2 separate regions of the Homo sapiens genome follow, and region 2 is linked to region 1. Evidence: fine-mapped expression QTL. A gene starts in region 1. The other region holds a variant in brackets. All regions are shown on one strand. Distances are from middle to middle. Region 1 holds the start of NPBWR1 (neuropeptides B and W receptor 1). Region 2 overlaps RB1CC1 (RB1 inducible coiled-coil 1).

What was found.
Region 2: its variant is fine-mapped to the expression of NPBWR1 in unexposed skin (GTEx, PIP 0.97).

The regions. Positions count from the first base shown.
Region 1 is chr8:52,936,282-52,941,660 of GRCh38, forward strand. It overlaps NPBWR1 (neuropeptides B and W receptor 1), which reads left to right and starts at 2,901. Exons shown (of 2, transcript NM_005285.5): 1 at 2,901-3,085; 2 at 3,430-5,379. The coding sequence starts at 3,627. The coding sequence ends at 4,613. RefSeq lists enhancers at 3,076-3,707, 3,708-4,339.
Region 2 is chr8:52,692,032-52,697,410 of GRCh38, forward strand. The region is part of intron 1 of RB1CC1 (RB1 inducible coiled-coil 1); the gene reads right to left. Among named protein-coding and RNA genes, the nearest start is that of RB1CC1, 20 kb to the right of the region's middle. The variant A/C (reference allele first, on the strand shown) is at 2,277.

The DNA.
Region 1 (5,379 bases):
ATGAAAGCGTAAGTAGAGAAATTCACACTCATTAATTGAAATTCCCCCCCCCCGTCCTTTCAGTAACTAATGAGACAGTTAGATAAAAATATCAGCAGAAGCCAGGCACGGTGGCTCACACATGTAATCCCAGCACTTTAGGAGGCTGAGGTTGGTGGTTCGCTTGAGCTCAGGAACTCAAGACCAGCCTGGGCAACATGGTGAGATCCTGCCTCTACGAAAAATACAAAAAATTAGCCTGGTGTGGTGATGCGCACCTGTAATCCCAGCTACTAGGGGTGCTGAGAGGGGATGATTACTTGTGCCCAGGAGGTTGAGGCTGCAGTGAGCTGCAATTGCACCACTGTACTTCAGCCTGGGTGACAAAGCAAGACCCAGTCTCAAAAAAAAAGAAAAAAAATCAATAGAGAAATTTGAACAACATAGTAAGTTTGACTAGTTGACATATGTAGAGTTTTGCACCCAACAAGTGCAAAACAATTTTTCAAGTACACATGAAATAATTAGAAAATAACTATATACTGGGGAGTAAGTTTCAAAAAATATCTATGAATTGAAGTCATATTGAGTATGTTCTCAGTTTACAGTGTAATTCAACTGGAAGTCAACAATAAAAAGGCTAGAAAATCTCCAAACGGTTGAAGATGATCAACTATATACATACATGTGTATATATACACATAAACATATATGGACACACGTGTATACATACGTGTATATACACGTATATACACATGTGCATATGTGTATACAAACATTCACACGTGTATACACACGTGTATAAACTATATACATGTGCATATATACACACATACACACATGTGTGTATATATGTGTGTATATACACACGTGTGTATGTGTATATACACGTGTGCATATGTGTGTGTATATACACACAAGTGTGCATATATGTGTGTATATACACTGTGTATGTGTGTGTATATACACGTGCATATGTGTCTGTATATACACGTGTGTATATGTGCGTGTATATATGCGTGTGTATATATGTGTGTGTATATACACGTGTGTGTATATATGTGTATGTATACACGTATGTGTATATAGTTGATCATCTTCAACCGTTTGGAGATTTTCTATTATATATATTTTTTCTTTAACATTATATGGTGTTTTATCATATAGTGTTTCTTACGGACATAGCTTAAGAATCATCTGTTATTTTGTTTCACAGAAAGTGTGAAACTGCAGGGGAGCCGATTTGTATAGATCCTGGTAAAAAGATAATTGAGTAGGTAAATTCCAGGGAGCTTTTGGACAGTGGATCCCCCTGTCAGTGGTTTTGGAGTCCCTAGTTTCAGTTACTCGTGGTCAACTGTGGTCTAAAAATATTAAACAGAAAATTCCAGGAATAAACAGTTCCTAGGTTTTCAATTGTGTTGACTTCTGATTGGCGTGATGAGATCCAGCCATCTTACTCCTTCCCACAGAAAGTGAGTCCTCCCTTTGCCCAGCGTTTCCCTGCTGTCTACAATATCCACCTGTTAGTCACTTCACAATCTGGGTTATTAGATGACTGTGGCAATGACCAGTGTGGTGTCTTCAAGTTGCCTTGATTTTACTGACTTTTTGCCCTTATTTCTCTCTGGCTCCAAAGTGCAAGAGAAGTGATGCTGGCAATTCAGATATGCCAAAGAGAAGCTGCAAATGCCTCCTTTAAGTTAAAAGGTAAAAATTCTGGACTTAATAAGGAAAGAAAAAAAATCATATGCAGAGGTTGCCAAGATCTACTAAAAACAAATCTATCCACGAAAATGTGAAGAAGAAAAAAGAAATGCATGCTAGTTTTGCTGTTGCATCATTTTTGGATGGAAGAACAGAAACATGTTCCCATTGACCGCAATGGGTACTATCCATGGTTTCAGGCATCCACTGGGGCTCTTGGAACCTATCCCCCATAGGTATGGGGGGGCTACTGTATTTCTGGCCCCACAGTCTTCTACTGCCGACTTTAGGTCTCTCTGGATCTCAGGCCCCCTTCTCTAAGATGCATCCTAGAGGACCAAAAATACACTTTATTTGGGCTTCGCCTGCTTTTGTGGAAGGGTAGTTTACTAGAGGATATAATCTCGTGTTTTAATTTGCTCTCTCTCCTAAAGGAAATGTGGAGAAAAAAAAAAAGCAGAAATTGGAAATAACCAATATTTAGTTTATTTCATTCGATTCTTAGGGGAACTGGTGAGGAGCCTAAGATGATTTTCCCTTCCTAGAGAAAGAATCCAAAGTCCAGGGAAATAGCGACAGGGGAGTTCAAGACTGCCCCTGCTAGTCCTTCCTTGGCTACTCTCCGCTGCGATCGCAGGATAGCTCTCATTAGCAGGAGAATCGGGCAAGTGTGTGGATAAGTAGAGAGTGTGTTGAACAACTTGTAACGTTTTATGAAATACGCATTGTCATGGTTCCCTAAAAGGCTTTGCGGAAGCCGTTTGTCTTTACTAATCAAGTCTTTACTTACACAAAAGTAGAAGTAGAAGTAGTTTTAGAAAACATACTAACAATCTTCTATCCCCTTGAAGACCAGAGTAGCAGAAAACAGGTGATTTGCATTATAAAATTGCACTCACTTTTTCCTCCTTTCAGATTTCACATTACATTAGCCTATTTGTGTTACGGTGTATAAAAAATGGAACAGGCGCCTCCACTACATTGTTCTCCTTTAAAAATAGATCACTTACACCCTAACTTTGTTTTCCTTAAATTCGATTCTTAACAGGAGAGCTTTCTATTATTTCAGATGGAGTGAGGTTGCACGACTGGGATGGAAGAAAGGAATCCCTTAAATTTGGGGGAATTTCTGTTCTCTGTTCTAAGACCATTTTACTTGGGGTGTGGGGGTGGGCGCGGCGGTCAGGGCAGTGGAACGCAGTCGCGGCTGCGCCATCCCTGCACTTCCAGGCGCGCGGGAGGGACCGGCGGGGACGCGAGCTGCGGACTCTGGCGAACTCGGGGGAGGCAGACAGGGGGAGGCGGACACCCAGCCGGCAGGCGTCTCAGCCTCCCCGCAGCCGGCGGGCTTTTCTCCTGACAGCTCCAGGAAAGGCAGACCCCTTCCCCAGCCAGCCAGGTAAGGTAAAGACTGCTGTTGAGCTTGCTGTTACTGAGGGCGCACAGACCCTGGGGAGACCGAAGCTTGCCACTGCGGGATTCTGTGGGGTAACCTGGGTCTACGGAAGTTTCCTGAAAGAGGGGAGAAGGGTTTGCATTTTTCCTATGGAGGATTCTTCTCTCTCTAGCATTTCGTTTGATGTATTCAACTGGTAGAAGTGAGATTTCAACAGGTAGCAGAGAGCGCTCACGTGGAGGAGGTTTGGGGCGCCGCGGCGCCACCCCCACCCCTCCTCGGGACCGCGCCTATTTCTAAAGTTACACGTCGACGAACTAACCTATGCTTTAAATTCCTCTTTCCAGCCCCGTGAGTCCGCGGCGACATTGGGCCGTGGGGTGGCTGGGAACGGTCCCCTCCTCCGGAAAAACCAGAGAACGGCTTGGAGAGCTGAAACGAGCGTCCGCGAGCAGGTCCGTGCAGAACCGGGCTTCAGGACCGCTGAGCTCCGTAGGGCGTCCTTGGGGGACGCCAGGTCGCCGGCTCCTCTGCCCTCGTTGAGATGGACAACGCCTCGTTCTCGGAGCCCTGGCCCGCCAACGCATCGGGCCCGGACCCGGCGCTGAGCTGCTCCAACGCGTCGACTCTGGCGCCGCTGCCGGCGCCGCTGGCGGTGGCTGTACCAGTTGTCTACGCGGTGATCTGCGCCGTGGGTCTGGCGGGCAACTCCGCCGTGCTGTACGTGTTGCTGCGGGCGCCCCGCATGAAGACCGTCACCAACCTGTTCATCCTCAACCTGGCCATCGCCGACGAGCTCTTCACGCTGGTGCTGCCCATCAACATCGCCGACTTCCTGCTGCGGCAGTGGCCCTTCGGGGAGCTCATGTGCAAGCTCATCGTGGCTATCGACCAGTACAACACCTTCTCCAGCCTCTACTTCCTCACCGTCATGAGCGCCGACCGCTACCTGGTGGTGTTGGCCACTGCGGAGTCGCGCCGGGTGGCCGGCCGCACCTACAGCGCCGCGCGCGCGGTGAGCCTGGCCGTGTGGGGGATCGTCACACTCGTCGTGCTGCCCTTCGCAGTCTTCGCCCGGCTAGACGACGAGCAGGGCCGGCGCCAGTGCGTGCTAGTCTTTCCGCAGCCCGAGGCCTTCTGGTGGCGCGCGAGCCGCCTCTACACGCTCGTGCTGGGCTTCGCCATCCCCGTGTCCACCATCTGTGTCCTCTATACCACCCTGCTGTGCCGGCTGCATGCCATGCGGCTGGACAGCCACGCCAAGGCCCTGGAGCGCGCCAAGAAGCGGGTGACCTTCCTGGTGGTGGCAATCCTGGCGGTGTGCCTCCTCTGCTGGACGCCCTACCACCTGAGCACCGTGGTGGCGCTCACCACCGACCTCCCGCAGACGCCGCTGGTCATCGCTATCTCCTACTTCATCACCAGCCTGAGCTACGCCAACAGCTGCCTCAACCCCTTCCTCTACGCCTTCCTGGACGCCAGCTTCCGCAGGAACCTCCGCCAGCTGATAACTTGCCGCGCGGCAGCCTGACTCCCCCAGCGTCCGGCTCCGCAACTGCCCGCCACTCCTGGCCAGCGAGGGAGGAGCCGGCGCCAGAGTGCGGGACCAGACAGGCCGCCTAGGCCTCCTGGGGAAACCGACTCGCGCCCCATACCCGACCTAGCAGATCGGAAGCGCTGCGACTGTGCCCGCAGGTTGACCTTGCCAAGCCCTCCAGGTGATGCGCGGCCATGCCGGGTGAGGAGAACTGAGGCTGAGATCGCCACACTGAGGGCTCCCTAAAGCCGAGGTGGAGGAAGAGGAGGGTAGAGGAGGAGGGCGGTATTGCTGGGAACCGCCCCCTCCCTGCCCTGCTCCCTGCTGCCCCACCCGAGCCCTGGCAGTCTGGAACCTGGCTGGAGTCGGAACTCTCCGCGCCTTCGAAGGGAGGCCCGAGGACGCTGCCGGCGCCCCCAGGCGTCGGCTCCGCGCGGCCCCTGCTGTAGCTGGCGCACAGCCCCGGCGGGTCCCCTTGTCCTCCGCGCGCTCTGGGAAGACGGTCAGGCGCGCGCGTTTGGCGCCCACCCCTGTGAGACCCGCTTGGCCTGGCGCCGCGGGCGGGGACCGCTGCCGAGGCCGCCAGCGCCTCTTCAACTGGGGAAAACACAACAACTCGGGATGCCCCATCGGAGTGTGTATACACCTGTGTGTGTGTGTGTGTGGTGTGCGCGCGTTTGCGGAGGCATGAAATGCGGGGAAAGAGGCTGGCGCTTGGCAGTGACTGCCTAGAATATGATACGAATAGTGATCCTTCTTT
Region 2 (5,379 bases), 240 kb before region 1:
TTTCCATTTGCAGATGAGAAATTACAATTCAGATTAAACTTGTCTAAAGGAACAAACTTAGTAAACCAAAACAAAAGTAAACTTAGCCAGGGGTGTGAACACAGGTCAATAAATTCATTCATTCAATAAAAATATCACCTGAGAATCTAGTTAGGTACCAGGCATTTTCTTAACTTTGGGAATAAAATACAAAATAATAAAACTGTCTGCTCTCATGAATTTTAATATCATAGTGGGCAACATGAAAATTTTATATTTATATAAAACTCCATGATACCTACTTTCAGGGGGAAAAAAGCTACAAAAAATCTTTTTTTTAAAGTAAAAACAAACATGAAGTTCCAAAATACATACTTCCACTTTGCTTTTATTCTTTAGAGATAATGATACTGTTGGCATAGCAATAGCTTCCATTGACTGGAAACATGAGTAAGAACTGTATGAAGTATATGATATTCTTACAAATCCTATAGTGAGAGAGGTTAAGAATTATCCGCATCATTCATATGACAAAACTATGGCTCAAAGAAGTTATTTCCTAAAGTCACATAGAAAGAAAGTTGTAAAAACTTAAAATCCATAGCTGGATCACGGGGGAAAAAAGAACATGAACATACTACATTAAAATCCCTTAAATAAGACTACATGTAGTAAGCATATTCTATGACTTGGGACTTTACTATTCCTTTAGAAATAGCAACACTTTTTTCCCCTTGCAGATTTTCTCCCTTATGTGACCATTTAAAAAATTTCCTTTACTAAATACAATACAAAAAAAACCTCTTTCAATATGAAGTAAGAAGAGTGGAATAACAGAACACTTTAAATGTGACAAGGTAAGGTTTTCAACAGAAAGCAAAGTCATCATCCAAGAAATGGCATGGACCCAGATCCTGAGAGAACAAGATTTCCTTGTGTCCATAAATGAAAAGGTGATCTTCACCTACAACCACCTGATCTTCCACAAACCTGACAGAAACAAGCAATGGGGAAAGGATTCCCTATTTAATAAACGGTGCTTGGAGTCTTGGCTAGCCATATGCAGAAAACTGAAACGGAATCCCTTCCTTACACCACATACAAAAATCAACTCAAGATGGATTAAAGACTTAAATGTAAAACCCAAAACTATGAAACCCTAGAAGAATACCTAGGCAATACCATTCAGGACATAGGCACAGCAAAGGTTTCATGACAAAAAAGCCAAAAGCAATTGCAACAAAAGCAAAAATTGACAAATGGAATCTAATTAAACTAAAGAGCTTCTGCACAGCAAAACAAACTATCATCAGAGTGAACAGACAACCTACGGGATGGAAGAAAATTTTTGCAATCTATCCATCTGACAAAGGTCTAATATCCAGCATCTTCAAGGAACTTAAACAAATTTACAAGAAAAAGAAAACATACATGTAGCCAACAAACATGAAAAAAAAGCTCAACATCAAAGATCATTAGAGAAATGTAAAGCAAAACCATAATGATATATCATCTTACACCAGTCAGAATGGATATTATTAAAAAGTCAAAGAAAAAGACAGATGCTGGCAAGGTTGTGGAGAAAAAGGAATGCTTTTACACTGTTGGTGGGAGTGTAAATTAGTTCAACCATTGTGGAAGACAGTGTGGCGATTCCTCAAAGACCTTGAGGCAGAAATACCATTTAACCCAGCAATCCTGTTACTGATGAGAACATATAGACACACGGGGGTAGGATGGGGAAACAACACTCACTGGGGCCTGTCAGAGGGTGAAGGGTGGGAGGAGGGACAGCATCAGGAAGAATAGCTAATGGATGCTGGGCTTAATACTTAGGTGATGGGATAATCTGTGCAGCAAACCACCATGGCACATGTTTACCTATGTAACAAACCCATATATCCCGCACATGTACCCTTTAACTTAAAATTTAAGAAAAGAAAAGGTGATCTTGGCATGTAGCAGAGAGAAATTTTTCCATACCTGGTCATCCTGGCAGTGTGGAATTCTCTAGAAATGTGCATACTGAACACTTCACAGCTAAAGAAACATATAGAGGAGAACCTACCTATCGTAGCCAAGAACAGAGCTGAGTGTTTAACACAGACAGCTACCCCTTTGCATCCTCACACACTTCACTCCCAGGACACACACTGGGGCCACCTTCAAATAGGGAACTCCACCCTACTGCTGGCAACTGCAGGACAGTGAGGAGTATAATCTTGGCTCTAGAGTGGAAGACTCAACAGGTCACGTGGTCTCCCACCAGGCTTTCAGGAAGAAGAGGAGGGTGATTC[A/C]GGATCTGCTCTCAAAGCAGAAAATAACATGGTGTTGGCCTCTACTCCCAGGCTCATCCCCCCCGGGTAGTCCCCTGTGGATCCGGAGACAGTCTCGAACTGATGCCAACTGGGCACAAAACATGCCCACCATCCTGGATGGCTCATCCCGGACAAACGGGACGCAGCAGGAGTTTTCTCTCTTATTACATTAAACATCTATACATCATAGCCTCAATTTTGCCTCTTGGAGAGTAAAGCCTAAAATACTTAACTATCTGGTCCTTTAGAGAGAAAGTGTGTGCCTCTTCCTCCAAAGCTTAAGCAACTACAGCCACTTCAGTGAGAGCTGCACATACTTTAGTTAATACCAGGCATCTACTAGTGAAGGACTGAACCTCCTGGTAAGCAGCACTTCCATCATATGGAAGTGACAGCAACAATACAAAGAAGTCCTGCCCAGAGACAAGCCCAATTTCCCAGTTTTCTTTCTAACAGATGATAGACCCAGGACTGATCACACAATGACTGGTATTCTAGTTTAGTGGGAGAGGAAAGGGTAGAAAACCAAAAAGAAGAAGATATTTTCCATACCTGCCACCCATCATTTAATTCAAATATCCAAAGATGTGATTACTGGTGAAAATGACAATAACAAGTGACTAAGGATTACTATTAGCTTTTTAGTAGGAGTTCCTATAAATTAATAAGAAAATCACAAAGACTCACAATAGATAAATAGGCAAAGGGCATGAGTAGGTTATCAAGTGGTTAACAAATGTGGAAAATATTTGAGGCCTCTTCAGTAATCAAAGAATTACAAATCTAAAAAGAAGACAGTATTTTTCTCCTACTAAGCAAGCAAGATTTTCGACCTAAGATTCCAAGGTTTTCAACCCAAGAGAAAAGAAATAAAATGTATAAAGAAGTAAAAAGTACTTTAGAAATACTAGTATAAACAAGAATTTTTCTCTTTCCATAAAACATTTATTCCATAGCTCCATTGAAAAGAAGGCATTGACAGACCTAGAGCCAGAAGTACCCACAGCACAACAGGCAGTGAAAAATTAACATTAACCAAAGAAAGGTCTGGCCTTTGCCCTTCGCTACTGGGAGGTGATCTCTAGGCCCCTGTAATATCCTGACAGATAGAACTGTGTTTGTTTGCCTTAGGGCTTCAGTCACGTCAGTGTAGCAACGTGACTCATGTATCAGTTAAGTTCTGACCTCCAGAGGAACTACTGACTAAAGACATTGGTCTGACCTCCAGAAAGGGCTAGAGACTAAAGGTGAGTCATGTGGACAGTACAGGATCAAGCCATAATAAAAACTCTGGACACCAAAGACTCAGGTGAGCTTCCCTAGTGAGCAATACTCTGTGTATACTGTCACGCGTTGTGGCCAAGAGAAGGTAACACTGTCTATGACTCCACCAGCAATGATGGCCAGAAGCTCTGAGTTTGGACCCCTTCCAGATTCTGCTCTCTGCCATTGCCTGATTTTAATTTTTGTATCCTTCTCTTATAATAAAAGTGTAATTGTGAGTATAGTGCTTTCCTTCGTTCCCTGACCTGTTCCAGTGAATTCTCCAAAGAGAGGGTGGATATGGGGAACCTGTGAGTTTGTAGTCAGCTGGTTTGAAGTGAGGGTGGGTTCTGGGCACCGCCAAACTTGCCACTAGTACCTGAAATGAGGGCAGTTTTGTGGGACTGTTCCTTCTAACTGTAGAGTTGGCTAACCTCATTACACACTCATACTATGGTTTTTTTGTTTTTCAGACGGAGTCTTGCTCTTGTCGCCCAGACTGGAGTGCAATGGCACAATCTCGGCTCACTGCAACCTCTGTCTCCTGGGTTCAAGCGATTCTCCTGCCTCAGCCTCCCAAGTAGCTGGGATTACAGGCACCCACCACCACGCCCGGCTAATTTTTGTATTTTCAGAGAGACAGAGTTTCTCCATGTTGGCCAGGATGGTCTCGAACTCCTGACCTCATGATCCACCCGCCTCGGCCTCCCAAAGTGCTGGGATTACAGGTGTGAGCCACCACGCCCGGCCTACTTTGGTTTCTAGAAAGAACCTTTGGAGAAGTGGCTAATGCTAAATGTCTAAAGTAGAAAATGTACCAATCACATAAGCCTGGAACATCTTAATATGCCATAAAGCAAGACAGCTAACAAAGACTAAAGAGATTAGGTCAAAAAGGCAAGGAAAACAACTTTAAAAGGCTTCTACTGGCTATGATGGGACAGTCTGACCATCAAAAGAATGAGTACAAGTAACTGAATGGCAAAAACCCATAAAAATCCATGCTGCATAATGATACTCAAAAAAACAAAAACAAAAAACCTCAGTGAGCTAAGATAGAACCCATGATAAAAACTTAAAAAGCAAAGAAATTAAGCACTGTCCTTCCTATATGAAATGTATTTTGGATAGCTGGGCACAGTGGCTCATGCCTGTAATTCTAGCACTTTGGGAGGCCTAGGCAGGCTGATCACTTGAGCTCAGGAGTTCAAGACCAGCCTGGGTAACATGGCAAAACCCTGTCTCTACAAAATATACAAAAATTAGCCAGGCATGATGGTGCACACCTGTACTCCCAGCTACTTGCGGGGCTGAGGTGGGAGGATTGTTTCAGCCTGGGGGATGGAGGATGCAGTGAGCCAAGATCACACCACTGTACTCCAGCCTGGGCAAGGGAGAGAGACCGTCTCAAAACAAAAAACAAAACAAAACAAAAAAGATACGTATTTCAGTCCATTTATATGGAAAACCTCCAGCTAATAGCGATTCAACTGGACACAGCCCAAGTATAAAGTTTTCTTGCCACCCCAGACCACCTCTGAAAAAGTAAACCTGAATTTAATCAAGCAACTATATGTACCTACGGTTTCCAGTTTCTAGGAAATATGGAGTATAAAGAAAAAGACAAACATTATGATGAATCAGTTAAATTCAGAATAAGCATTCCACAGAACAATGACTCTGTTTCTTCAACAAATGGTTACTAAAAAAAAAAAAAAAAAAGAAGACTTTTTATAAACTAAAAAAGATGGACGAGACAAAATAAACAAATGCCATGTGTGAATTTGTTCAGATCCTGGATCCTGACTTAAAACAACTG